Linked DNA regions of Homo sapiens. The protein of the gene in region 1 purifies or fractionates together with the protein of each later gene. This does not show direct contact. Each region holds a gene or a part of one and is shown in the gene's direction. Other genes may lie near its edges. The genes, in order: LPAR1, SLC9A1, SCAP and SACM1L.

The links.
Region 2: the proteins of LPAR1 (region 1) and SLC9A1 purify together in Homo sapiens (affinity purification with mass spectrometry; 4 studies listed by BioGRID and IntAct, with this or other methods). This does not show direct contact.
Region 3: the proteins of LPAR1 (region 1) and SCAP purify together in Homo sapiens (affinity purification with mass spectrometry; 4 studies listed by BioGRID and IntAct, with this or other methods). This does not show direct contact.
Region 4: the proteins of LPAR1 (region 1) and SACM1L purify together in Homo sapiens (affinity purification with mass spectrometry; 4 studies listed by BioGRID and IntAct, with this or other methods). This does not show direct contact.

What each region holds. Positions count from the first base shown.
Region 1 is NC_000009.12:110,937,395-110,944,819, reverse strand, and holds part of LPAR1 (lysophosphatidic acid receptor 1), read left to right. Parts: intron 1-2,651; coding exon 2,652-3,399; coding exon of another isoform or gene 3,400-3,479; exon of another isoform or gene 3,480-4,908; intron 4,909-7,425.
Region 2 is NC_000001.11:27,109,984-27,117,408, reverse strand, and holds part of SLC9A1 (sodium/hydrogen exchanger 1), read left to right. Parts: intron 1-3,122; coding exon 3,123-3,583; intron 3,584-7,425. UniProt on the Homo sapiens protein: Electroneutral Na(+) /H(+) antiporter that extrudes Na(+) in exchange for external protons driven by the inward sodium ion chemical gradient, protecting cells from acidification that occurs from metabolism.
Region 3 is NC_000003.12:47,465,892-47,473,316, reverse strand, and holds part of SCAP (sterol regulatory element-binding protein cleavage-activating protein), read left to right. Parts: intron 1-1,801; exon of another isoform or gene 1,802-5,264; intron 5,265-6,868; exon of another isoform or gene 6,869-6,968; intron 6,969-7,425. UniProt on the Homo sapiens protein: Escort protein required for cholesterol as well as lipid homeostasis.
Region 4 is NC_000003.12:45,706,388-45,713,812, forward strand, and holds part of SACM1L (phosphatidylinositol-3-phosphatase SAC1), read left to right. Parts: intron 1-392; coding exon 393-520; intron 521-3,110; coding exon 3,111-3,260; intron 3,261-6,749; coding exon 6,750-6,809; intron 6,810-7,425.

The sequences.
Region 1 (7,425 bases):
ATTAAATATGTATGGTTTTTATGGTATTACAGTCAATTGTTGAGAGAAAAGAAATGGCATAGGACAGGGCACTTTTCTCTACCTTTAGAGAAAATCTGTCAGTTTTACTCATCTTTGTACATTGTGGCTTAAAGAGATAATTTATACTTCTTAATTTTGCCATCCTTAACTTTATCGTTTTTCTCTGTGGGAAGGGCTAAGAAGCTGCATATATCTCTGCTTAACTTTGTTGCTACTTGGTGTTCAGAAGTTGGAATGCTGGGAAATAATATACGCTTGATATTTGGTTTAAACATTTCTTGATTCAGAGAAGGTAGATGGTTATAGAGACTAATGAAAAGAACAGACTTTTATATTTGTCTTGACAAAGTTTTAAATATCCTTTGCAGAAAGAAAATTTGTAAAGTTTAAACATTTTTGGAAATATCTTTAATTTATTAAGGAAATCAATATGTATTTAGCATGTAGTCCATAGAACAGTTGGATACTATACAACAATGAATAAGCAAGCTAGAATCTCTGCGTTTATAGGGTTTCATAGCCTAGTGTAGAGGGGATCAACAGATAATTAAGCAATTATGATACAGTGATTCCCTGGACCAGCAGCCTTGGCATTACTTGGGACCCTACCTCAGATCTACTGAATCAGAAGTTCTTGCGGGTTATGTCAGCAATCAGTGTTTTACAAACTCTCAGGTAATTCTGATACAAGAAACCACTGTTTTCACTGTTGAGAACCAGAGTTGAGAGAGAGAGCACAGCACATTAAATAGAGCTGAAGCTGAGAGTTTGGAGTCATTAATATCTTGAGTTGAGGCTGGAGAGGCAGGTAAGTAAGGTCTGATAAGATGATTGAAAAGTTTAGACTTTTATCTAACGTGCACTCATAAGCCCTTAAAACATGTCCAGTGGGGAAACAGCTTGATCAACTTTGTCTTTTTTTTTTTTTTTTTTGAGATGGAGTTGGGGTCTTGCTTTGTTACTCAGGCTGGAGTGCAGTGGCATGATCTTGGCTCACTGCAACCTCCACCTCCCGGGTTCAAGCGATTCTCCTGCTTCAGCCTCCTGAGTAGCTGGGATTACAGGTGCCCACCACCATGTCTGACTAATTTCTGTATTTTTAGTAGAGAGGGGGTTTCACCATGTTGGCCAGGCTGGTCTCGAACTTCTGACCTCAAGTGATCCACCCACTTTGGCCTCCCAAAGTGCTGGGATTACAGATGTGAGCCACTGTGCCCTGGACTGTGATCTCTTTAAGAAGCAGACAAGTAAAGAGATAAATAATTATACAATGTATTAAGTATAATATTTGAAGCATAATCTAAAAGCTATTAAAGTCTAGATAAGGAAAGAGACTTTAGATGCCTGGGTAAGTCAGAAGACTAACCACTTAAGTATTTCACGTTGTTCTTGGAAGTTTTAGTGTACAACCTATGGATATTCAGTAGAATATTTGATCAAAAATAGTGGTTAAAAGTGTCATATGTTTTGGGTAATTTATTAGATTCAAAGCAAAATAAAAATGAAAAAGTAGAATGTGAACCGTCTTCAAGATATATTTTTTAATTTTAGGGGTCCCAGGTAAACTTAGAGCTTCAAGAAGAATGACTTACTCTATGTGATGTATACTTTTCTAATTTCTAGTTTGTTACTTATTTTCTAATTTTGTTTAAATATATTATTATATATAATTACATATTATAATTATATATAATTATATATTATATATTATGATAGATAAATAAACATATATTATTCTGTTTTAAACTGTCTCAATCCTTTTTAAAGTGATTATTATAAATATTGTAAATAATAAGCAAATATATTCTTATCAATGATGTTGAAGAATAAGTAAACATGTTATAAAGCATTTTCACTCCACACTTTAAAAAATATGCTGCATCTAATCTAAGTATATTTTACTTGTAGAACATTGTCAAAGGGTCACCTACTCTTTGGAGGTTACGTTGGGTCCTCCAAAAAGAAAAAAAATTCTCAAATGTCATAGATTGGTTGACAAGTCCTATTCTGAACTTAAGGAGTTGTGGGGGTAGGCAGTGCTGACCACAGGAATGTTGAGCAGCAAATGCTGGCTTTGGGCAAAAAACCTTTGATGCACAGTGACTTGTTTGAAATGTTTGGAATGATGGTCCTTGTGGGAACCTGCATTACAAAATGTCTGTCCCACATGGAACATACTGTGTGAGAATAGAAATGCAGAATAATAGGGCAATGATACCCTATCTAGAAACCAACTGTGTTTACAGATTCCCTAAATAACAGGTCAAATAGATTTTACTATGGTAAATATTCCAATTGCAATGTTCTGCAAAATTTTTGTCTGTCTCATGTATTTTAAGCAAGATTTCTTGGCCATGTGGCTTTTGTAGTAGACTTCAATGACATAAAACCACTAAGCAGAGACCTTGTCATTTATTTAACTCCAACTGCCTTTAATCTTAAGGACAGTAATATTGTGAGAAACCTTGGAGTTTCAACATAATCACAAGATGGTATGCAGGATCAAATGTTCAAATTATTTGCTTTTGTTTTTCTGTTGCATGTACTATAAAAGTCTTGTGTTATCTATATAAGCTTTAAATTTGGACCTGTGCCTTCTTTTTCATCATCTTTTCTCCTTTTTCTTTTAGTTCACAGCCATGAATGAACCACAGTGCTTCTACAACGAGTCCATTGCCTTCTTTTATAACCGAAGTGGAAAGCATCTTGCCACAGAATGGAACACAGTCAGCAAGCTGGTGATGGGACTTGGAATCACTGTTTGTATCTTCATCATGTTGGCCAACCTATTGGTCATGGTGGCAATCTATGTCAACCGCCGCTTCCATTTTCCTATTTATTACCTAATGGCTAATCTGGCTGCTGCAGACTTCTTTGCTGGGTTGGCCTACTTCTATCTCATGTTCAACACAGGACCCAATACTCGGAGACTGACTGTTAGCACATGGCTCCTTCGTCAGGGCCTCATTGACACCAGCCTGACGGCATCTGTGGCCAACTTACTGGCTATTGCAATCGAGAGGCACATTACGGTTTTCCGCATGCAGCTCCACACACGGATGAGCAACCGGCGGGTAGTGGTGGTCATTGTGGTCATCTGGACTATGGCCATCGTTATGGGTGCTATACCCAGTGTGGGCTGGAACTGTATCTGTGATATTGAAAATTGTTCCAACATGGCACCCCTCTACAGTGACTCTTACTTAGTCTTCTGGGCCATTTTCAACTTGGTGACCTTTGTGGTAATGGTGGTTCTCTATGCTCACATCTTTGGCTATGTTCGCCAGAGGACTATGAGAATGTCTCGGCATAGTTCTGGACCCCGGCGGAATCGGGATACCATGATGAGTCTTCTGAAGACTGTGGTCATTGTGCTTGGTAAGTTCTGTCTTGACTGTAACTTACTTTATAGATTCTCAGTGACTAACATAAACCACATTATTTTATGTCAGAGGTAACCAACAGTATGAATATTCACCAGGTAATTCACCAGGAATTACAAGGGGATGAGGCACCTTTATATTAAATGTCAGCTTATGAGTCTTCCTAAAATTATAGAATTAGCGTTAGGGAAACATGGGTCCCAGTGGTGCAGTATAAATGATGATGATGTAAAAGATGTCATTGAAGAGTTTGGCTATCTAATATTGAAAATACCAGAATTACCAGTCAAACTCATTCATTTTTCTTACAGCCTAAATTGTGAAACTTTTGCATTGTGGTTTCTGTATTACATATTTTCAGACAGAAAGTGCTTTTGTAGAATATGAATATGCTTCCATATATAGTTATTTTTGTTAGTCTATTCTGTAATTGTTGCTACATTATAGGTAGTATATCAAGGTTTTATATAGATTTACTGAACAAAACAGATTGGAATTAATGATATTCTCTGACAGTCATCTTCATGAAAACTTCCTTATTTTCTATTAATTTTCTATTTGTAGTAGTGGAGGTTAATTCATATTTCAAGGTGAAGAGCAAGATTTGTAGACTCAAATACCTTCTGCTTTTAAATAAGCATTGTTTTTCTTGGATGAAAAATTCATAGTAGTGATCAAGAAGAATATATTCACTTATGTGTGTAGAAGGTAGTTAAAGAGCACCTACTATGTTCTACGCTCTGTGCTGGCTCCATGAAAAGGACAGATACAGACATTTCCTTTGGAGCTGAGAGTAGAGTGAGAGTTTTTTAAAATAATTACCCAATGGAATTATACATTCTCCATAGACTATATTCAGGTTAACGTTTGATCACATTAAAAAATCTTTTTTGAAAACCTTTTATCATTTCATCTTTCCCTATGGAAATTGAAAAAAAACATTTTATCACCTCCTCTTTCCCCACAGAAATTCAATGGAAAGTTCCTATAATTCTCTGTGCTCCAATTTATATAGCATTTTTGGGTGAATGTAACATGGGATTATGTGGCTCCTCTGAAACTCTGGGAATTACCTTAATTTTAGCCACTGGAAGGAGACAGGGTCCTGCTGATCATTATATAAAGTAGTATTCAGATTGATGCATAGGTCTCGTCTGTTTTGGTTAGGATGACTGCATCATGGACATCATTTTCAGCTATACTCATTGTTGACCCTCTTGTAGACCTGTGAGAATAGCAACTAAGCCTTGGGATCACTGACACACCTAAAACCCTGCCTAACTAACTGAAACACTGAGGACCCCATCACCTCAGATATGAGATTGTCTTATTGCATCCAATGAAGATTAGTAGAACTACAAAAATGGTTTCTCTGTATGTTTATTAACAGGACCTTAAGCACACCTGTGCCACAAGGCCACATTTTCCATGATGTGGATAAAACACATCTTTGTTTACCATGGATGCTATTTTTGTATGAAATAAAACATGAGACATTAAATAACATGAGACTTTTTTCCTGTATTGACTCAAATATTTATTTGCTGATGACCTAAATGTTGGTTGACATTTTTTATATGCATGAACTTTTTCTATTACGACAAGTGCTACTCATAGTTTGCAGAATTGCCAGCAGCAAATGACTACTGAACTTGGACTATTAACCTGCCAAGTTCTTGTTTTAATTTTGACCTTTGTATAATATCTTGTGTATTCCAGTGTGCAATGTACTGAATGATTCACATACTTTTGTGCCTCTTTGGGTTGTTTTTCAGGTTGAAATAATCATTTTGAGGCTATAGGAGCTAGTGTTTCAGTGTACATTTGCCCTAAATGCCACTTTCCCATGCCCAACTACTACCACTGCACAACCACTAACTTTAAAATAACAGAAATAATATTTAAACTAGTATACTCCACAAAGATCGAATGCAGTTGACATCTCTGGAATAAAGAGCATGATTTTTAAAGCTGTGAGATGGAAGAACTTTCAGAACATGGAAAACCCCGTCACGGTGATAGGTGAAGGTATTTGGTGAAGAAAGATGGGAATAAGATTGTAATATAGGAAACAGAAATTAAATGGACCGTAGCCTTTTTGAGAAAAGTAGCAAGAATAAGAGAATGGGCAGGATGTGGGCAGGGAGTGGTTGGAAAGTTTAGAATGGGGAAGTCACAATCCTAACAGATGTTTTTCAAGGCGTGGTGCCTAATGCCATTCCTACAGTATGCTCCCCTATTTGAATTGTAAGTGTCCATCCTTAGATAGGCACGGTTACATGGGAGACATGGGTTGGTCTTGTCATAATGTAGGCAAACCCCAAAATTGGGGCTCAGCCTGGGGGAGTTCTTGGCTCTGCCCAGGAAAGAATTCAAGAGTGAACCAACAGTGAAAGAAAGCAAGTTTGTTAGCGTAACAGTGTACAGCCAAGTGACCACTCCAAAGGCAGAGCAGGGCTATCTCATAGGCAGGGTAGCACAGAACAGCACTAATGGATTGCTGGCTAGTTATATTTATACCCATTCTTTTTTCTTTTTCTTTGAGACAGGGTCTTGCTGTATCACCCAGGCTGGAGTGCAGTGGCATGATCTTGGCTCATTGTAGCCTGGACCTCCTAGGCTCCAGCAGTTCTCCCACTTCAGCCTCTCAATTAGCTGAGATTACAGGTGCATACCACCACACCCAGCTACCCAGATTTTTTTTTTTCTTTTTTCTTTTTTTTTTGTAGAGATGGGGTTTTGTCATGTTGCCCAGGCTGGTCTTGAGCTTCTGGGTTCCAGTGATCTTCCTGCCTTGGCCTCCCAAAATGCTGGGATTGCAGGCATAAGCCACCATGCCTGGGCCCCCACTCTTAATGCTAAATATAATTAAACAGGTTATTCATGAACTTCCTGGAAAAGGGGTGGGGAGTTCCTGAAACCATGTAAGGTTAACTTCCAAGTCATTGCCATTGCATTTGTAAACCGTCATGGTGCTGGTAGGAATGTCTAATGCAAATGTATTATGATTCCTGGTCCTTGCTGGTTTGGATTGGTTTCTTTGCTACATCCTGTTTTGATCAGCAGCGTTGTGAAAACAAGTCCTGCTGGTCTCCCACTTCAGTAGGAACAAGAATTCTGGTCTACTCGAAGTTCTTCTCTTTGTAAATTAGTCCATTGATAATCTGGTTATTTTACTTTAGTTTGTGTACATTTGGTTTTTAGTATTTGTCTTCACTGCCAGATTGCCAGGTTTGTGAGGGCAGGCAGGATTGTAATGATTGTTTGTTTTCTCCACGTTGCCACATTGCCTGTCACGGCTATCTGGTACAAAGTAGGTAGTCAATAAATGCTGAGGGAATGCATGTGATGACAAAACCAAGTTTCTCTGCCTTCAAAACTGAAGACCAGAGCCGTAGTGAATTCACTACAGTAAATGCCACTTTATTCAGCTATGTGGGAGCCAAACCTAGCGACACCTTTATGTTCTATGCCTTCTAAAATACAACAGCCTGGAAAACTCCTGGCTACAATGGGTGCTCAGTAAATAATATGTTTGTTTTACTTCCATTTATTCTGGGAATGATTACTCAGTTTCCATTTTCACTTCATCAAAATGATCCCTGGGTTTTAGACCTATTCAGTCTTCATGATCAAAAGAAGAATTTGTTGGTCAGCAACTGACTTGTTATGAGTCAAGTTATATTAAAATAAAGTCATCTTTGAGATTAATAATGGGCAATACCAATGGCTGGTTTTTAAGCATGATCTTGTATTAAGCTGCTTTTGAGTGAGTACTGGATCTTAATAATTATTTTTAGTTGTGAAATACTTATTTGGCATAAATCATGTGCTACCTTAGAAATTAGTATTTGTAAATTACAACCCTATGGCGTATAGGTACTGTTATTGATTTGTTATCCTTATTTTCCAGTTGATAAAAACTGAGGTAAGGAGAGGTTAGGTAACTCTCCCACAGCCACACAGCTAGGAAGTATAGGAACGGGGATTCAAGGTCAGGAGCTGGGATTCAAGGTTGGGC
Region 2 (7,425 bases), on another chromosome or scaffold:
TGCCTACCCTGGACTATCTCTTTAGACTCTGCCTTCTCTTAAGGCAGCTCTTGGTGCTAACGCCAGGACAGGGGCAGGGAGGCTGTGGAGGGGGGTCAGCATGCAGCTGGCTGGAGCTGGACTTCCGGCCTTGGGAAGGTGCTTTCTGGCCCCTGCCTGTAGGAGCTCTGCTCCCCTAAATCTTCATCCTGCTTATCTCCGCTGCGCTGTGCCTGTCTCCCCTCCAGCACACTGCAGGTCTTTGGGGTCTGATGCCATTGTCTTGTCTCAGCTGCTTCTGCCTGGGTTGTCTGACTGATCTCGGTGGGTGCCAGGAAGAGAGAGAGGAACCTGGGAGATGACTGTGGATTGAAGGTTATGAGAGAGGGAAGCACCAGAAGATTCCTGCCCTAACCTGAGCAGACAGGTGGTGGTCAGGGAATGCTTCCTGAAGGAGGAGGCAGGCAGAGGATATGGTGTCAGCCACATATGGTGGGGGTAGAGGTAGAGGAATGATTTCTAGAGAGAGGAACTAGACTAGGTGAAGATTGGCAGGCAAAAGAGGATGTGGCTCATATGGGGCAATTGCAAGGAATTTGGCAAGGCTGAAACCTAAGAGTTGACAGTGGGGAGAATGGGACATGAGGCAAGAGCAGATGACAGAGGCAGTGCTGAAAATGTGGGCTTTATCCTCTACAGCAAGAGAGACTTGGGTCCAACATGACTAGCCCTTCCCAGTGGACCAGCCAGCTACACACTGGATGTTGACTGGTGGACAGTACAAAGACTGGGGGACTTTTCAGCAAAAGGGGTGATTTTGGAATTATTTTCCCTTTTATTGATGTGGGAAGTAGATGAACAAAAAGTGACTTTTGGTCATGTCTATTTTGAAATCAGGAGAATGCACATGGTGCCTTCGAGGTCCTCTTGGCCTAGGATGGAGACATCTTTTTTTCCCAATGTGTTTTGAGTGTCTTCAGGGTGCTTGGCACTGTGCCAGGATTCTGGGCCTGGATAGTGTTCAGTGTGTGAACTTTTTTTTTTCAAGATGGAGTCTTGCTCTGTTGCCCAGGCTGGAGTGCAGTGGAGTGATCTTGGCTGGAGCTCAGTGGCGTGATCTCGGCTCACTGCAACTTCTACCTCCTGTGTTCAAGCAATTCTCCTGTCTCAGCCTCCCAAGTAGCTGGGAATACAAGCACCCACCACCACGCCTGGCCAATTTTTATATTTTTAGTAGAGACAGGGTTTCACCATATTGGTCAGGCTGGTCTTGAATTCCTGACCTCAGGTGATCCACCCACCTCGGCCTCCCAAAGTGCTGGGATTACAGGCGTGAGCTACCGTGCCCAGCCAGCAGTGTGAACTTTGACTTGTCACCGTACTAGCACTGCCCAGATTCCTACCTGAGAGTAGGAAGGGCTTTGGGCATGGAGAGGGAAGTTCCTCCTCTGTCCCAAGGATCTCAAGAGTAAGTAATGAGAGCAGAGGCCTGGCCAGGCATGCAGGTTATCGGAAATCTTGGGTGATGTCCCAGCCCTGTGTATTTTCAAGTCAGCTGATATTTGTTGAGCACTTCTTGTGTCCTAGCCCTGGGTGTATAATGATAAGCAGTTATGGGATCTGCCTGCACAGAGCTTGCAAGATAGGGAAGGGGAGGAGAGAGAGCTTTGCTTTCTTCTTTCTTTTTTTTTTTTGAGGCTGGGCTCAAGTGATCTTCCTGCCTCGGCCCTCCTAACTAGCTGAGACTACAGGTGCATACCATGCCCAGCTATTTTTTTTAAGTGGAGATGAGGTCTCCTATGTTGTACAAGCTGGTGTCAAATTATTGGCCTCAAGTGTTCCTCCCACCTCAGCCTCCTAAAATGCTGGGATACAGGCATGAGCCACCATGCCAGGCCAGAGAGAGCTTTCCTCTTGAGCAAAGGGACAAACCCTCTTGGCTATGCCAACCCTGGGAGCATAGTACCCAACATACAACTAGATGCTCAGATTTTTTTCCACCTACTTTCCCACCCCAAAACAAAACAAACAAGTAAACCACTCACAGGAGCTCAGGGTTCTCTGGCCATACCTGATATTGAGAGAGGCCCTCTCAACGGGGATTTTTGCTACTCCTCAGCTCTGGGTTTGAAGCCTTAAGGTGGACTACAGCAGAGCGGCCTGTTGCTGGCCAGGACACGGCCTGGGGAGATGGCTGGTGGGTCCCAGGCAGAGGGGTGTGTGAGGAGGCCTTGATGGGAGGGAAGGATAGGAGAGCTTGAATTACAGAACTGTGCAGTTTGATGGGAACTGGGGCATCAGACCTGTGTTCTATTCTAGTTCTGCTCCCCACTTGCTGTGTGACTTTGGGCAAGTCCCTTCCCTTTTCTGAGCCTTAGTTGCCCCATCTTTAAAGTGGGTGGCATTGAGCTAGAAGCGGGATAGCAAATAGATTTTATCTCACCTGCCAAAGCTGGTTGCCACTGACATCCTTGAGCCGTGTCTTGAGCAGCTGCCTGGACTCAGTAGGAAAGCCTACTGTTTTGCAGGTTTGCAGACCCCAGGCCTTATTATCCCCAAGTTCCTTCCCACGCTGGTATTCTTAGATTCTTCTGTGCTTTCTTCTGTCTCCTATGCCACTCCCCACCAGCTGGTTGTCTGCCTTCTGCTTAAACAGCTCCGTGATAGGGAACTACCATCTTCCCTCAGACAGAATTGTTAGATTGTTATTCCTCAGGTTGAGCTCAGATCTGCCTCCCTGAACTTGTGCCTGGAATAATGCCTTGGGTTCAGGCGTAGGTGATGCCCGTAGGTACTTGGCACGTCAGTAATCAATTTATAATTTCTGCCTTCTGGAAGCATATAGAACTGCTGCTTTCTAACATTTTATGACAGTGACAGAGATAGCATGTATATATCCTTTGAAAAAAGTGCTTTAAAAACACTGTCACTTGGTTTATGATGGCAAACCTGTGAAGCTAGCATTGTCCCTTCCATTTTACAGGCGAGGAAGCGGAGGCTCAGAGAGTTAACAGAGCAGCCCTCTGAGACCCAGCCTGTGCACCTCTCACCAACTGCGCTCCTCATCCCCGGCCCATCCCCAACCTTCTATTCTCCTGGCTCCTCCGAAAGCCCATGGCCTCCCGTTCTCTCGCCCTCCGCAGGTTTCCATGTGATCCCCACTATCTCAAGCATCGTCCCGGAGAGCTGCCTGCTGATCGTGGTGGGGCTGCTGGTGGGGGGCCTGATCAAGGGTGTAGGCGAGACACCCCCCTTCCTGCAGTCCGACGTCTTCTTCCTCTTCCTGCTGCCGCCCATCATCCTGGATGCGGGCTACTTCCTGCCACTGCGGCAGTTCACAGAAAACCTGGGCACCATCCTGATCTTTGCCGTGGTGGGCACGCTGTGGAACGCCTTCTTCCTGGGCGGCCTCATGTACGCCGTGTGCCTGGTGGGCGGTGAGCAGATCAACAACATCGGCCTCCTGGACAACCTGCTCTTCGGCAGCATCATCTCGGCCGTGGACCCCGTGGCGGTTCTGGCTGTCTTTGAGGAAATTCACATCAATGAGCTGCTGCACATCCTTGTTTTTGGGGAGTCCTTGCTCAATGACGCCGTCACTGTGGTGAGGAGGCCAGGGGCCATGCCCATGTCCAAACGGTACAAACCCAAATCCAGGCCCACCAGTGAATCCCTCATCCACCCGCTAATAACAGTAATAAAAACAGCTGAGGCACATTCCCGCTTCCCGTATGCCAGGCACCATGCTGAGCCCTTCGGCATGGATTATCTCATTTAAGTCCTCATGGCTGCCTTAAGAGGTGCTTATTATTCTCATTTTCCAGGGGAGACACAGGCCCAAAGAAGTTAAATAACCTGTTGGAGTATGAACCAGTTTGTGATTGAACCAGGTCTGACTGACTCCAGGGCCTAAGCTCTTGGTTTTGCTAGGTTATATGCTCCCTCCTTGACTTGACTTGCTTTTTGTTTTTTAAGAGACAGGGTCTTGCCCTGTCTTCTAGGCTGGTGAACTGGTACGGTCATAACTCACTGCAGCCTCAAATACCTGGGCCTGAGATCCTCCTGCCTCAGCCTTCCGAGTGGCTAGGACTACAGGCATGCACCACCACACCCGGCTAATTTTTTAAATTTTTTGTGGAGATGGGGTTTGACCATGTTGCCCAGGCTGGTCTTGAACTCTTGGCCTCAAACCATCCTCCTGCCTCGGCCTCCCAAAGTGCTGAGATTACAGACCTAAGCCAACAAGCCTGGCCCTTCTCTTGCATTTTGATGTGAGCTTGGGCAAATTACTTACACTCTCTGTGCCTCAGTTCCCTCTTCACAGACCATATCATCTGTGAGGGGCCTTTCAGCTCTCATGTTGGCTATATCTTAAGTTAGAATTCGGTTTGTGCACAGTTTTTGGGCGGAGATTATGGAAAGGGGCCTTGTCTCCAAAACATCTAGAAGGTGATAAGTAAAAGAAGTTGGCCACTTGCTTGCTGTGTGACCTTAAGCAAATGCTATACCTCTGTGGCCCTCACCTTTTTTTTTTTTTTTTTTTTTTGAGATGGAGTCTTGCTCTGTCTCCCAGACAGGAGTGCAGTGACGCAAGCTCAGCTCACTGCAACCTCCGCCTCCCAGGTTCAAGCAATTCTCCTGCCTCAGCCTCCCAAGTAGCTGGGATTACAGGCGTGTGTCACCATGCCCAGCTAATTTTTGTGTTTTTAGTAGAGACTGGGTTTCGCCATGTTGGCCAGGCTAATCTCGAACTCCTGACCTCAGGTGATCCGCCCACCTCAGCCTCCCAAAGTGCTGGGATTACAGGCATGAGCCACTGCGCCCAGCCAGCCTCACCTTTGATAGCTGCAAAGTGGCAGAGGATTAGTGCTTTCCTCCAGGGTCTGCACGTGGTAGCACCATATACACCTGCACATGCCCTTCCTCCCAGCTGGTTTCCTTGGGAAACAGATGTGTGCATGTGCATGCTCACGTTGTGTTGTGAGAACACTCCCACCCCCTCCTGAGCTGTCCCGCTCAGAGCAGCTGCACACACAGGAAAGCTCAAGGGCACATGTGCATTCCCAGGCCATGACTCCCTCCTCTGCAGCCCCAGCCTTCAGGAAGCAGCACCTCAGAGTAGAGACAGACTGTGGTGTTCAGCTGCTGGCAGCCTCAGCTTCCTGTTCCTCCCACGCCTCCTCATGGGGCTGGGTAGAATAGCCTGACCTGAGCAGGCAGGCCTCCATCCTGGCTTCCTCTAGCACTAGCTCTTGCCCAGGGTTACCACATGAGCCTGAGTTTCCCCATCTGTGACACAGGGATTGCAGTACTCAGCCTGTCATCCTCCCAGGCTTCTTACAGGATTACTTACATTAGTGAGTCATACTCACTAATGTCTGTGAAGCCAGTGAGTGCCAAAGATAAAGCCCTCTCCAGTGGGATCTGGGTGTTGGGGTTCAGGTGAGCACTGCTGTGGAGCTTGGGGCATGGTTGCATCAAGCAGGTAACAGACCCAGCCATTTGTGGACCCATGGTCATGTCTCCCAAAGGCAGTGGCAGCGGTGGTAGTGATTGCTGGTGTTCATTGGGTGCTTCCTGTCTGAATGTGTATTGCCTCATTTTTATTTATTTATTTAGAGACAGAGTCTCCTGTCACACAGACAGTGTCACTCAGGAGTGCAGTAGCACAATCATAGCTCACTGCACCCTCAAACTCCTCAAATGATCATCCCCTCTTAGCCTCCCAAGTAGCTGGGACTGCAGGTGCTGGCCATCACACCCAGCTAATTTATTTATTTATTTATTTATTTATTTTGTAGATATGGGGTCTCATTATGTTGCCTGGGCTGGTCTCAAGCTCCCGGGCACAAGCGATGCTCCCTCTTTGGCCTCCCAAAGTGCTGAGATTACAGGCGTGAGCCACTGTGTCTGGCCTATGTTGCCTCATTTAATCTATACAGTAACTCCATGAGGTTGACACAGTTATATTCCAGTTTTTTTGCGATGAGGAAACTGAGGAACGGAGAGGTTACATAAGCCTGATATATGATATAGCTGAGGTTCAAATCCGTAGTCTGAGTCCAAAGCCCAAGTGCTTACCACTGTGTTACTCTGTTTCTCTATAGTTCCAGGGGTAATAGCACCAGGCCAGAAAGGAGGACTTTCCCCTCTGTGCCGACTCCATGGGCCCATGTGGTAGACCATGAGGACCCATGAATCCCCTCAGGCCAGGAATGAGTTTAGCCCACGGCTGAGTACGCACCTGCTAAGAGGCTGTCTGCCGCTGGAGCCCTGTCCTATCCCCCAGACAGCTGGGGCCAGGCCGCACCAGGCCTGGCCAGTGCTCTGCATCTCCCCTTGCTGCCTGGCCCAAGTCAGGTCTTTCTGGAGCTCTTGGCATAGGTGTGAGTGCCCCATTTCCCAGAGAGTAAAGCCAGAGGCTGACCCTGAGCTGCCTGGTCTCAGGTCTGTGCCCTAGACAGGTCACTCCTCACGGTCCATTCCTCCTGCTCCAGGTCCTGGGGGCTTTGGAGGGTTCCCTGTCATGGATCCTCACGTCCTTCCCTCCCTTCCCCCAGGCCTGGAAACTCCCTGCTCCTTCCTGGCAGAGCTGTCTAGGACAGACTTGAGTAGGCCAGGCAGCTCAGGGACCTAGCAATAGGAGGGGCAGATCCTCAAAGCTGAGCCTGCTGGGGAGGCCTCAGCCATGGCTGTCAGGGAATAAGTTCTGGGCCCAGTTCTTCTGCTCCTGGGCTGGGGGCCCCCTGGCGTGTTGTTTTACCACTGTGAGCCTCGGTTTAGCAAAGGAGCATCCTTGACCCACCTGCCTCGCATGGTTGTTGAGTGTCGACTCAGATAAAGACTATCAAAGGGCTTTACAGTGTATGAAGTGCCACTTAAACATCTGATGGTAGTGTTGCAATGACCATCTATTTCCCAGTCCAGGAGACAGGGATGCCTTAGCCTCTAATTCCATAGCATCTGAACTTGGCTGTTCATTGCAACCCCTGGGGTGCTTGTTACATAGAGATTTCTTGGCCCTATCCCAGAGAGTCCAAGTCCAGTATGGCCTGAACATGTGTATTTTCAGAAAGCTCCAGAGGTTAAGAAATGACATTCTAGTTCATTGTGTGAACGTCCCTTTTTTGTGCTGAAGGAGGGACTGAAACCCAGTGATGGGCATGACGTGCCCAAGGTCAGGCAGTGAGAGGCAGACTTGATAGCACCAGATGTGGCTAACACTGCATCAGGTAAGGCTCCGAGCACTTGATTCGCTGATTTAGTCCTCACAGCAGTCCTAAGATTTGGTATTATTATCCTCATTTTATAGACAGGAAAACTGAAACACAGGGAGATGAATTTGCTTCCTGTACACAACTCAGGAGTGGCAGAGCCAGGATTCCAGTCCAGGCAGTTTGGCTTCAGGGTCTTCACAGAGCTTCCCAGGGCCCACCCTTCACCAGT
Region 3 (7,425 bases), on another chromosome or scaffold:
AGGTACTGTAATATTAGCTTATCTCACTTAGTTTTCATAATAACCAGGTGAGATAACACTGTTATCACCCCCTTTACGGAGAGTTTTAGAAAAGTTATTTGACTGGCCCTGGGTCACCTAGCGAATTTGAGACGGAGTGTGTTGTGTGCAAACTGAGATTTGGCTGACAAAAGAGTCCATCCTTTTATGCTGTTCTTGTACCTGCTTCCACAGTCTGTTTTTTTTTTTTTTTTTTTGAGATGGAGTTTCGCTCTTCTTGCCCAGGCTGGAGTGCAATGGCGTGATCTCAGCTCACTGCAACCTCCGCCTCCCAGGTTCAAGCGATTCTCCTGCCTCAGCCTCCTGAGTAGCTGGGATTACAGGCATGCACTACCACGCCTGGCTAATTTTGTATTTTTAGTAGAGGCGAGGTTTCTCCCTATTGGTCAGGCTGGTCTCAGACTCCCGATCTCAGGTGATCCGCCCGCCTCGGCCTCCCAAAGTGCTGGGATTACAGGCGTGAGCCACTGCACGCAGCCCACAGTCTTTTCTGTTGCTCATTGGCAGGTAAGGGTAGTGGAAGAAGGTGGTAGGGGTGGTGGGAGGAAGCCAGCGTCACTGACTCTAGTGTGGGGATGGTGGAACTCAGCAAGAAGGTGACAGCAATTTGACCACTGCCATTTGACAGTTTCTGCTTAAGCAGTCAAGGGCACTAACCTAGAATGGTTGCAGGGATGCTAAATCATAAGGAAGCTTTGCAGTGGGGTCCAAAGTTGGTATGTAAGCATAAAGATGCACGTGGATCTCAGGAAAAAAATAAAACTAATTTTCCTGTTTATTTCAGCTTCATTTAATTATTATTATTATTATTATTATTTTATTTTATTTTTTTTTTTTGAGACGGAGTCTCGCTCTGTCGCCCAGGCCGGACTGCGGACTGCAGTGGCGCAATCTCGGCTCACTGCAAGCTCCGCTTCCCGGGTTTACGCCATTCTCCTGCCTCAGCCTCCCGAGTAGCTGGGACTACAGGCGCCCGCCACCGCGCCCGGCTAATTTTTTTGTATTTTTAGTAGAGACGGGGTTTCACCTTGTTAGCCAGGATGGTCTCGATCTCCTGACCTCATGATCCACTCGCCTCGGCCTCCCAAAGTGCTGGGATTACAGGCGTGAGCCACCGCGCCCGGCCCCATTTAATTATTATTATTATTTTTTTGAGATGGAGTCTCACTCAATCTGTTGCCCAGGCTGGAGTGCATTGATGCTATCTTGGTTTACTGCAATCTTGGTCTCCTGCCTCAGCCTCCCGAGTAGCTGGGATTACAGCTGTGCACCACCACACCTGGCTAATTTTGTATTTTTAGTAGAGATGGGGTTTCACCATATTGGTTAGGCTGGTCTCAAACTCCTGGCCTCAAGTGATCCACCCACCTTAACCTCCCAAAGTGCTGGGATTACAGGCATGAACCACCATAATAATTTTTATTATGTACTTTATAATGTACACTGTATTATCACTGTAGTACATATATAATTTATATGTAAGTGTACATGTATTGGGAGCATATACTTGAATTTTTGTTGTTGGGCATTCATGATCAAAACATTTGGGAACCAGTGGCTTATTTGATATTTAGCATTTTCAGAAAGCATAAAATATACAAGGTGTTGGCCAGGCACAGTGGCTCATGCCTGTAATCTCAGCACTTTGGGAGGCTGAGGAGGGTGGATCACCTGAGGTCAGGAGTTCGAGACCAGCCTGACCAACATGTGTGAAACCCCGTCTCCACTATAAATACAAAAGTTAGCCAGGTGTGGTGGCATGCGCCTGTAGTATACCTCTAAGTATACTAGAACTATGTTGATGTTTTCCTCTCTCTGCCTTGGCCACTAGGAAGCTCAGAGTCAAGTTTGTATCCAGGGTCTTCCAGCTTGTGCTTAAGTGTTTTAATCGTCTAGATTGTTTTTAATGGTTTCTGCTCTTTGTCTCAGGTTTTACTATAAAATACATAACACATTTCCTTCCCGTTCTAAATATTACTGTGATTGTATTCTTATAGCCAAATCTTTGTTCTTATTCTTATTTTATTTTATTTTTTATACTGTTGAATCCCTCTGAGCCTTGCCTTTCCCTGCCTCCTCTTCTGTACTCATTTTTGCTAAAATTTGTAAGGGGATAAATTCTTGAAAAGCTTTGCACATTTTGAAGACTTGTTTGTTTTTTAATATTTATTATAGTAAAACTCAAATATACATCCAAATAGAGAGCAATAAGCCCTTGTGTACCTATCACTCAGTTATGTCTGTCACTTAGTCATTAACTTGGGGACACTCTTGTTTCATCTATATCCTTTAATCCTCATTATACTTTTTTTTGGGGGGAGAAGTTTATTAATTGATAGGTGTTACTTTGGGGTAAATGAGGAGGGAGCCCACTAGTATGCTGGGGAACTGGTAAGGTTTTTTTGTTTTTTTCTTGAAACAGAGTCTTGCTCTTGTCGCCCAGGCTGGAGTGCAGTGGTGCGATCTCGGCTCACTGCAACCTTCGCCCCCCTGGGTTCAAGCGACTCTCCTGCCTCAGCCTCCCAAGTAGCTGGGATTACAGGCACCTGCCACCACACCTGGCTAGTTTTTGTACTTTTAGTAGATGGGATTTCACCATGTTGGCCAGGCTAGTCTTGAACTCCTGACCTCCGGTGATCTGCCTGCCTCGGCCTCCCAAAGTGTTGGGATTATAGGCGTGAGCCACTGCGCCCCGCAAAGGTTCTTTTCTTTGGGATCCTTTCCTGTCCTTAGAGAAGACCCTTTAGCTTTCTGCCTGAGGAGCTGATGCCTAGTTGTCAGGCTTTCTTCTTGCCCAGATAAGGGTGTTAACTCCTGTGTACAGATGTTCACTTAATCCTTTTTACCAGTCCCACATCTCACTATAGCCCTATGCTACACCTGGGTTTCTCCATCCCAAGCCCCTTTAGGGTCTCTAGTGCCAGTCTTCTTCCTCATTGGCTATGTCCCCTAGGTTCTTTTTTATTTTTCCCAACGGTGATGCACTTACTGAGCAGATGCAGTAATCTTCTTACCTGAGCCTACATATAACCATTGGCCTAAATGTATGATGGTTTGCCAGCATCAGCAATAAGACTGGTAATGGGGTAAAAAACAAGTTCTCTTAAGGCTAGCTCTTGATCCCCTGTTGTAAGCTGACCAACTTAATCTGAAAATAATTTGCAGCATGTAAATATTTTAGGATTAGAGCCATCTGTATACACACTTAAAAGTAGTTTTGCTACCATTACATTAGTCTAAAAGAGTTACCTAAGAATGCCAAACGATATTTTGTTCGAATGCCTTGGTTATTTTAATTTAAAAGCATTTCTTTCAAAACCGCTTCTCTCTTCACAATAGTAGAGCTGTGGCAGTGAACTAAGAGGTCAAGGATTCAGTGAATCTGTGGCTAATTTCTTGTTCCAATCTGAGAGCTCTCTTTGCACTATGATCAAAATGGAGTCTTGCCAACTGCCCAGGGTAATAGCCTTGCAAGTCTCTTCCTTGTTGAGCAATGAATATAAGTTCCACATGGCTGGGGAGGCCTCACAATCATGGCAGAAGGTGAAAGAGGAGCAAAGGCATGTCTTACATGGTGGCAGGCAAGCCTCTTCTCATTATACTTTTAAAATTATTTGGTGGCTGGGTGCAGTGGCTCATGCCTGTAATCCCAGCACTTTGGGAGGCCAAGGTGGGTGGATCACTTGAGGTCAGAAGTTCAAGACCAGCTTGGCCAACATGGTGAAACCTTGCCTGTACTAAAAATACAAAAATTAGCAGGGTCATGGTGGCACGCACCTGTAATTCTAGCTACTTGGGAAGCTGAGGAAGAATTGTTTGGACCCAGAGGTAAAGGTTGCAGTGAGCCAGGATCGTGTCACAGCACTCCAGCCTGGGTGACCGAACAAGACTCTCAAAACAAACAAACAAAAATTATTTGGTGATTTTTTTTTTGAGACGGAGTCTCCTTGTCACTCAAGCTGGAATGCAACGGCGTGGTCTCTGCTCACCGCAACCTTTGCCTCCCGGTTCAAGCGATTCTTCTGTCTCAGCTTACCAAGTAGCTGGGACTACAGGCATGTGCCACCACACCCGGCTAATTTTTGTATTTTTTGTAGAGATAGGGTTTCACCATGTTGGCCAGGCTGGTCTTGAACTCCTGACCTCAAGTGATCTGCCCACCTTGGCATCCCCAAGTGCTGGGATTGCAGGTGTGAGCCAACGTGCCTGGCCCATTTTAACCATTTTTAAGTGTACTATTTAGTGACATTAAATGTATTCACATTGTTATGCAACCATCATCACTATCCATTTCCAGAATGTTTTCATTATTCTACATAGAAACTATCGATCCAGGAGCCATATGTAGAAAGCTGAAACTGGATCCCTTCCTTACACCTTATACAAAAATCAATTCAAGATGGATTAAAGACTTAAATGTTAGACCTAAAACCATAAAAACCCTAGAAGAAAACCTAGGCAATACCATTCAGGCCATAGGCATGGGCAAGGACTTCATGACTAAAACACCAAAAGCAATGGCAACAAAAGCCAAAATTGACAAATGGGATCTAATTAAACTAAAGAGCTTCTACACAGCAAAAGAAACTACCATCAGACTGAACAGGCAACCTACAGAGTGGGAGAAAATTTTTACAATCTACCCATCTGACAAAGGGCTAATATCCAGAATCTACAAAGAACTTAAACAGATTTACAAGAAAAAAATCAAACAACCCTATCAAAAAGTGGGTGAAGCATATGAACAGACACTTCTCAAAAGAAGACATTTATGCAGCCAACAGACACATGAAAAAATGCTTGTCGTCACTGGCCATCAGAGAAATGCAAATCAAAACCACAATGAGATACCCTCACACCAGTTAGAATGGGGATCATTAAAAAGTCAGGAAACAACAGGTGCTGGAGAGGATGTGGAGAAATAGGAACCCTTTTACACTGTTGGTGGGACTGTAAACTAGTTCAACCATTGTGGAAGACAGTGTGGCGATTCCTCAAGGATCTAGAACTAGAAATACCATTTGACCCAGCCATCCCATTACTGGGCATATACCCAAAGGATTATAAATCATGCTGCTATAAAGGCACATGCACACGTATGTTTATTACGGCACTATTCACAATAGCAAAGACTTGGAACCAACCCAAATGTCCATCAATGATAGACTGGATTAAGAAAATGTGGCACATATACACCATGGAATACTATGCAGCCATAAAAAAAGGTGAGTTCATGTCCTTTATAGGTACATGGATGAAGCTGGAAACCATCATTCTGAGCAAACTATCGCAAGGACAGAAAACCAAACACCGCATGTTCTCACTCATAGGTGGGAATTGAACAATGAGAACACCTGGACATGGGAACATCACTCACCAGGGCCTGCCGGGGGATGGGGGGAGGGGGGAGGGATAGCATTAGGAGATAAACCTAATGTAAATGACGAGTTAACGGGTGCAGCACACCAACATGGCACATGTATGCATATGTAACAAACCTGTATGTTGTGCACATGTACCCAAGGGCCAGTGGGTGGGAATTGGTATCTCATTGTGATTTCAATTTGTATTTTCTAAGGAATATTGATGTTGAGCAATTTTTCATATGTTGATTGGCCATTTGTATATCTTCTTTTTTGTTGTTGTTTGGGTTTTTTTTTCTTTTTCTTTTTCTTGAGACGGGGTCTTCTTGCTCTGTTGCCCAGACTGCAGTGGCGCAATCACAGTTGACTGCAGCCTCAAGCCTCTGGTCCCAAGTGATCCTCCCACCTCAGTCTTCCAAGTAGCTGGGACTGCAGGCATGTGCCCCCATGCCTGGCTTATATTCATATTTTTTGTGGAGATGGGGTTTCACCATGTTGCCTAGGCTGGCCTTGAACTCCTGAGCTCAAGTGACCCATCCACCTCAGCCTTCCAAAGTGGTGGGATTACAGGCATGAGCCACCCCACCGAGCCTGTATATCTTCTTTAGAGAAATGTTCATTCAAGTCCTTTTCTCACTTTGAGTTATTAATTGTTATTTTGTTGTTATTGTTGAGTTGTAGGAATTCTTTACAAATTCTGGATATTAAACCCTTGTTAGATATATGATTTGTGAATAGTTTCTCCCATTCTGTTGGTTAGCATTTCACTCTCTTTATTGTGTGATTTGCACAATTTTTAACTTTTTTTTTTTTTTCTTTTTTAAGACAGAGTCTCCCTCAGTCACCCAGGGTGGAGTGCAGTGCTACAGTGTTGGCTCATTGCAGCCTCCACTTCCTGGACTCAAGCAGTCCTCCCACCTCAGCCTCTCAAGTAGCTGAAACTACAGGTGCACACCACCATGCCTGGCTAATTTTTTTTGTATTTATTTTTTTTTAAGATATGGGGTCTTGCCATGTTGTCCAGGCTGGTCTCAAACTTCTGAGCTCAAGCAGTCCGCTTGCCTTGGCTTCCCAAAGTGCTAGGATTAAGGCGTGAGCCACCACGCCCGGCCAAAAGTTTTTAATTTTTATGAATTCCAGTTTATCAATTTTTTTCTTTTGTTGCCTATACTTTTCAATCCTTGCTAAACTCAGCATCATGAAGATCTTTTTCTTATATTTTCTTCTAAGGGCTTTACAGTTTTAGCTCTTCTTTTTTCATTTATTTGATCTATTTTGAGTTAATTTTTGTGTATAAGAGTCCAACTTCACTTTTGCGTGTAACTATCCAGTTTTCCCAGTAGCATTTGTTGAAGAGACTGTCCTTTCCCCAGTGACTGGTCATGGCATCTTTGTCAAAAATCAGTTGATTATATTTGTGAGAGTTTATTTTTGGGTTCTTTTTTCTTCTTCTTTTCTTTTTTTCAGGTTAGATGGGTAGTGCTGACATCATAACAAGGTTCAAGAATGACTCATCTCACATGTGTGTGAAACACCCAGGTATCATACTGATGAACTACAGAAGATCTGGGCTCTCTATTGTTTTATATGTCTGACCTTATGCCAGTACCACATTGTTCTGCTTACTGTAGCTTTATAGTAAGTTTTGAAATCAGGAAGTGTGAGTCCTCAACTTAGTTCTTGTTTTTCAAGTTTGTTTTGGCTATTCAGGGTTCCCACTTTTTTCTTTGGACAAAGTAATGGGGAGAATTTCTTTCTTTTTTTTTTTTTTTTTTTTTGGTTTTTAAGACAGTCTCACTCTGTTGTCAGGCTGGAGTGCAGTGACGCAATCTTGGCTCACTGCAAACTCCACCTCCTGGGTTCAAGCGATTCTCCTGCCTCAGCCTCCTGAGTAGTTGATATTACAGGCACCTGCCACCACGCCCAGCTAATTTTTGTATTTTTAGTAGAGACGGGGTTTCACCATGTTGGCCAAGATGGTCTCGATCTCTTGACCTCATGACCCACCTGCCTTGGCCTCCCA
Region 4 (7,425 bases), on another chromosome or scaffold:
CCTGTAGTGTCAGATCTCACGTCCTGATGCTTTAAGCTGCCTGCTGGGAAATGATTAGCAGAGGTCTGTATCCCTTGGGGGTGATGAAAGAGAGAAAGAGAAGTATTTTCTGTCTCTACTTTCCATTTACTAAGACAAATCCTTTGGTTATGAAAAGCTTTTGCTTTTATCTTTTTTGAGAAAAACATGACCTTTCAGTAAGAATTTTTCTAAATAATATGCTGACCTTTCTATTCATAAATTGTAAGGTTGCTTTAAAAATGGGCCTTTTATCTGAGTGGCACAATATAGTCTCATTCTACTAGCCTTTAAAGTTAAACAATAAGGACTCCTATTTCTACCTTTAGAGTTACTATTTTTATAATTATGTGTGTTTGGCTTGCTTTTTGCAGGTAATTATCTTATAGTCATTACCAAAAAGATAAAAGTAGGTGAATTTTTCAGTCATGTAGTCTGGAAAGCAACAGATTTTGATGTCCTTTCTTATAAGAAGACAATGTTGCACTTAACTGATATTCAGGTAAGAACTGGAAATTGTTACTAATTGCAGCGCCCAAAGAAGTAGCATGGGCTGGGGAGAGGAGGGTGAGGGTGTTGTGGAATACAAAGAATGCTATAATTATTTTAACAACCTATAGAGTAAGATCACTCTACCTACTTTTCTACCTAGGCATAAAAAATATTTTTTAAATCATTTGTTGCTCTTGTTTTTTTTTTTTTAAAGATTCAGTTCTTAAATTATGCAATTTCATATGGAGAGAAGGGAAAACAGAAATGCACGGGTACTCAACACCAGATTTAACTTCATATCCTCTTTGTAAAGAAATAAAATATAAATACCTTTGAAGTTCTACTCCTCTTAACTCATTCCCTTCTTTCCCAGAGAGGTTTTCTCTATTTTTACCACATGTGAATGTAAGTGTGTGTGTGTGTTTATGAAATGTGTATATATTCTTTCAGGCAGTTTTCCTTTTGCACTATTCCTGTATGCACAGATTTCAGTAACCATAGTTTAGTTAACACCAGTACCCAAACAGCATGGCTTAAATTTCAGTTACTCCAGTTTATTAACTGAAGAATTAACCCACCAAAGATGAAGGTGCAAAAAAACAAAAAGCAACAACTCTGGAAGAGAAATTGAAATTGAACATAAATGGAGCATAGAAGAAGTAGCTGACCATGGGAATGCTGACACTATTCACCATTCAAGGGACAGTAGGTATGCAGCCAGAGGTCCTGGTGCAGGCGAACTGACCGACATTAATGATGGAGTGGCTGTGACGAAAGGGATGACAGTATCCCAGAGAAAGTGATGCCTGCAACAGACTTCCCATTAAAGGAAACCTTGGAGATATTTCCCAACATTGAAAGTGCAAAGGATAAAATGTCAGAAGTTGGTTTAGACTTAGGAAGGTGTATGACAGTTCACCAGGGATAGAAGAAATATTCTGTATCTTAATCTATATGACAAGAAGGCGGCAAGCACTGTTCAAGTCTCTTGATAAATTTTTTTACAAAGAAAATATTTTTTATTCTCGGTGTTTCTAATGTTTTAAATTATAGTGTGCTAAATATTAGTTTTACAATTTGTTCATTTATGCTTATAATTTACTATATATAACTTACAAGTTACATCTACAACGTAACTATATAAGTTAATATCTATAACTAATATCTATAACTTACAATAGAGTTTTTAATGTTTTGACAAAAAAAATTTTTAAAGGTCATGAAACAGTCATAGTTTTTACAATTGACTGTTAAGATAGCTTAAGATTATTAAGATGAAAATAACATGGTAATTTTTACATTCCCACTTTACAAAGTAAAGACTGCCTGTATTCATATTTAAACAGGATCTGTTTTTGCTCGGAGTGTGTATGAAACTTACATGAATGGCATTGCCCTGTTCTGATTCTTTGAAACTTACTTTTTAAAGTCAACATTGTTTAGAGATATATATACCTGTTGAGAGTGATTGTTTTCTTAATGTAATTTTAGTTACATGTTTGCTATTTAAAAATTTTAAGTTGTATTTTTACACCCAATTTATAAGAATGTTTCTAGAAGAAAATATATTATTCTAAAACATATAACTTAGGATAAACATTTTAAAAAATAAAATTATAGCACTGCCTACCTGAGTAAAACTACAGGATATGCTTTTTATACTTTAGAATTTCTTTTTTATTATATATATCAAGAAATATATATCAATATCTTCATTCTCTACTAGGCATATTTTAAAGAAATAAAAACAGCTGTATTTATTTAATAGACCAGTCATATTTACTTAGACAATTTCTTCTCGATTGTTATTCTTTGTTGTCAAGCTGTGTAGCTAATTTTAAAAACATGTCTGAGCACAAATAAAAAATTTTGTATATGTAGATTTGTAACATGTAGATTAACAAGTTAATCATTTAGTAATGATTAAACGTTACCAAACATTAACAATTGTTTTTTAAAACAAGGATAAAAACAAATGTCAATCTTAGTATTCATTGGGAAAGCTAGTTAAAATGGTTTCCCAAAAATAAAGATAAATATTGCTTTTACTGGACTTTTTAATCTTTGTTTTAAAGAAAAAGAATTCCATTTTACTTCTCGTCCATCCCAAACCAGGGAACGTTTCTTGAGAATGTGGATGATGTTAGTATCTTGTTATTTGCTGTTTGCATTATTGGGCCCGTCGTAAATTTATGTGTTTTATTTGTCGAAGATAGCTATGCTAACTTAGCAGGGCTGTTGTGAAGATTAAAGGGAATCTTTGGAAAATACCTGGCACACAGTAGGTCATAACCGAAGGTGATGTTTTGTTAAAACTACTCTTCTGCCTTTGAGAATAAAATTTGTAAAGGATACAAAGGGGAGGAGTCCTACCTAATCAAGTTACCTAATAGTACCCTACAGTGTTTATTGAGTATCTTCTGTGTGTCAGGAACTGTCCTACATCCCAGGGAAATGGCGAGCATCCCCCTCACTGGCTCAGTCCTTGTGCCAGTAGTCTTTAATGAGACTGGACTTAACAGGATTTAATTTGTATTCTTTTCTCATGCTGGCAGATTCCTTTTCAATTATGAGCTATACTGATTTTTCTTTGTTTATAGTTACAAGATAATAAAACCTTCCTAGCGATGCTAAACCATGTCTTGAATGTGGATGGATTTTACTTTTCAACAACATATGATTTGACCCATACTTTGCAGCGGCTATCCAACACTAGTCCTGAATTCCAAGAAATGAGTCTCTTGGAAAGGGTAAGCTTGATCTTCAATTATTTTTATTTTTAGGTTTTTAAAAGGGACATGTCTCTGTTTCATGCATAAAAATTTATATTGATTTTTCTCAGTCCTGGCTATCTTAGAATCATGTATGAGGCTTTGAAAATATACCCTGTTTTAAATATACATCACAATCCCAGTGTGTGAGTCCTTGAATCTGTGTATATATACAGCCAGAATTGAGAATCACTGGTGTAGATATTCAGAAATCTTTGTATAAACACACATGTAAGTTATTAGAGGAAAATCTTTCAGAATTTGTATTTCTGCATAAGTATTACCAGGCTACCAAGTGCTAACTCTCAGATGTCAAATCTTCAAACTAGCATTGCATTCATTTGTAATTTCTTAACTCTCAGTGTTCGGTAGTGTAGCAGTTACATTAGCAGTGTAATTAGGCTTATAAAATTCATATTCTAACAGTTGATATTTCTTCTGTAGTGATGCTTATTTATAATTTTTATAACTAAAAATGTAACAAAAGTCACTAGAACTTGGAAAATATCCTTTTAAGGTTTTTTTTATTTTGCTTTTTTTTTTTTTCTTTGAGACAGAGTCTCACTCTGTCACCTAGGCTGTAGTGCAGTGGTGCGATCTCAGCTCACTGCAACCTCTGCCTCCTGGGTTCAAGCAATTCTCATGTCTCAGCCTTGTAGGTAGCTGCAATTACAGGCGTGTGCTAACACGCTTGGCTAGTTTTTAGTAGAGATGGGGTTTCGCCATGTTGCCCAGGCTGGCCTTGAACTCCTGGCCTCAAGTGATCCACCCACCTCATCCTCCCAAAGTGCTGGGATTACAGGCGTGAGCCACTGTGCCTGCCCAGTCTGCCTTTTTTTTTTTTTTTTTTAATATACAGTGAATATATCTTTAAAATTAGGTTTCATATGATCTCAACTTAAAGTTTCTTTTGTTCAGGAACCTGGATGATTGCTACCTGAATTTTTTTTTGACACACCTTAGAAGTGTTTAATGAGAAGACAGAATTTAAAAGGTCGCTCCATCTTACTTATTAGGTTGGACAATGTGAAGTCGCCAGTAATTGACCATTTTTGACCAATAAAAATGGTTATTTCATGTGGTTCAACCTAAATTAATATTTTAGTTGACTGGCTTTTTTGGGTGAGATTTTCAACTCTAATTTGGTAAAATTGTATGTAGGCTTAGATGGAAGTTTAGGTGCAGGCTAAGCATTCAAGAAACTTGGCTTTTAACTACAAAGAGACTTGCTTTTAAAAGCAGTTGCTACATTCTCCATTTGTTTATGAAACATCTCTACAACGTCAGCCATGTACCAGGAACTATACTAGCCCCTGGGGACCCAGAATGAAGCTGTGGACCCTGTCTTGTGGGAGCCTACAGTCTGCTGGGGAAGTGGTAGTCAAAGAATGGTTGCTATAATGGTGATATGTACCAAAGTGAGGTGGGATCCTGAAGGAATGAGGGTCTTTGCCTGAGGTTGTCAGGGACAACTTTATAAAGTAAGGTATCTACAGAGGACAGTAACTTTACACAGAAAGGTAACTTTTGAGCTGAGACTTGATGAAGATTTGTTGGTCAGGTGACAGTGGGCCGGGGGGTTCCAGGCAGAGGTGGTGGCAGAGGCTAAGCTGCAGAAAAAGCCATCTCATCTGTTGGGATGAGATGGGAATGTTTTGTCAGCTAAACAGAAAGTTAGCCAAGTGTAGTGGTTCATGCCTGTAATCCCAACACTTTAGGTGGCCGAGGCAGAAGGATTGCTTGAGTCCATGAGTTCAGGACCAGCCTGGGCAACATAGGGAGACCACAGCTCTACAAAAAAATTTAAAAATTAATCAGGTGTGGCGGCACGCACCTGCAATCCCAGCTACTCGGGAGGCTGAGGTGGGAGGTTCACTTGAGATAGAAGCCACAGTGTGCTGTCATCACGCCACTGCACTCCAGCCAAGGCAACAGCAAGACGGTCTAAAAAAAAAAAGTTAATGTTAACATAGGGAATCATAAAAGTGATAAATGGAACATATATACCCTAAATATTTTAACTTAAAACCTAAAAGTTTTACATTGGTCAATGTTTTTATGTACGGCCATAGGATTTTCTTTGTTTTTGGTTCCTTGATTCTGAATTGTCTTCCCTGTGTAAATTACATCCATAGGGCTTTCCCATTTGGGCCACTTTAAAGACTTTGACACTTACAGAGAAATCTGTGTGCAGAATCCTGTACATTTTTACTATGTTCTTTTATATTTTTTTAGTTGCCACTCCCACTCCAAATTCAACAGCAGTTTTGTTTTAGCAACTTGCCTCTTATCAAGTTACATTCCAAATCATTTAACTTTATAGAAACAGCAGTGTGTTTTTCATCTTATTTCATTGGTTTATAAAATAGTTAAACTATATAATGATGAAATAATAATAAGTATGACTGGTACAAATTCAGGAACACACACTTGAATCTCAGGAAGTGCGATTCAGCTGGTTGTGGTCAAGTGCAAAAGCCATTCCCTGTGACTTTTAGAGTCGGCGGTGCTGGTGGTTCAGTTGGTATGCTTCATAAATAGAATTGATTAATCTACTGAGTAGAGTCAGTTATTTTGTTTGTTTTTTCTTTTTTGAGACAGAGTCTTGCTCTGTCACCTATCCTGGAGTGCAGTGGCACGATCTTGGCTCATTGCAGCCTCCACCTCCCAGGTTCCAGTGATTCTTGTGCCTTAGCCTCCCCAAGTAACTGGGACTACAGACACGTGCTACCACGTCTGACTAATTTTTGCATCTTTAGTAGAGACATGTCGGCCAGGCTGGTCTCGAACTCCTAAGTCTCAAGTGATCCGCCTGCCTTGGCCTCTCAAAGTGCTGGGATTATAGGCATGAGCCACCACGTCTGGCCCTAAGTAGAGTTGATTAAATATAGATTGTTGAGGGAGCCTCTTCTGTATTTATGAAAGTTGGAGTGGCCAGAGATGAGATCAGAGAGTTAATTAGGGGCTGCCAGATCCTAGGACTGATTAGGCCATGCAGAGATTTGGTTCTTTAGATGACAGAGTCATTGAAGAATTTTGAGCAGATAGGAGACAGGACATGTTAGAGAACTCCTGCTGGTAGCATTGTGGAAAAATGAGTGGCGAGGGCTAATGCCTAAACTGGAGGCAAGGGAAGGTGTGTTAGTTAGGCTGGAGTCAGATGTTGGTAAAGATAGTGGGAGTAGAAATGTAAAAAATATGGATTTTGAAGGAGATTTAGTACTTGACAATTAAATGTAAGGGAAAGAAATACCGTAAAACTCCTCCCAGGTTTCTGTCTGGCCTGAGACAATGAGACAGAAATGCCCACAGGAGGTACAGATTTGCGGGGGAGATGTATTTTGTTTGAGGCCTGTCAAAGAAACTGGCTTCTAGCCATCAGAAAGAGACATTGATTGGTGTAGTTTTCTTTCTGTAGAAAGTAAGCTTGGCAGGAGATATTTTATTAAATTTTAAAACTTCTCTCAGGCAGATCAGCGGTTTGTATGGAATGGTCATCTTCTAAGAGAACTTTCTGCACAGCCAGAGGTAATGTACACGAAATAAAATCTGCTTAATTGTTACAGTCCAAGCTTTAATTCAATGCATGCTATAAAGTGACTTCCTAATCACCAAGAATTTCGAGAAACAATTCTAATTTAACTGTTTATAACTTACAAACTTGGATCAGGTCTACCCTGTCACATCATTCTAGGTTGAAGAAGCCTAACTATTTTACTCTGATCTTCTATAGAAGCCTTAAATAAAAATACATTGCTTTGTCTAACTAAGAGAGATACAGGGGATCTTGGTACATGGATAATGGAGAAATGAGGGGCCAGGGCCAAGTTTCCTGGCCAAGGGGAGAGCTCTTTTTTGTCTTCCTTTGGGGATGAGACTCCCTTCAGTCACCCAGGAGAGACATGCACAGGCACCGCCCTCTTCTGTCCTTTGTCTACACATATGAGGTATAAACAGGGAGGCCCAGCTAGGGAAACATGATATATTATTGAATCTAGGTAAATAGATGTGTCTAATTGCTTTATTTCTTGTCATTTGCTATGCTTTTTTTGGAAAAGTAGTTTGAGCTGCAAACAATTAGCATGGGATATCTTTTCCCTGGAGGAGTGAAGTTGTTGTAGGCAAAGACTGAAAAGGAGGTAAA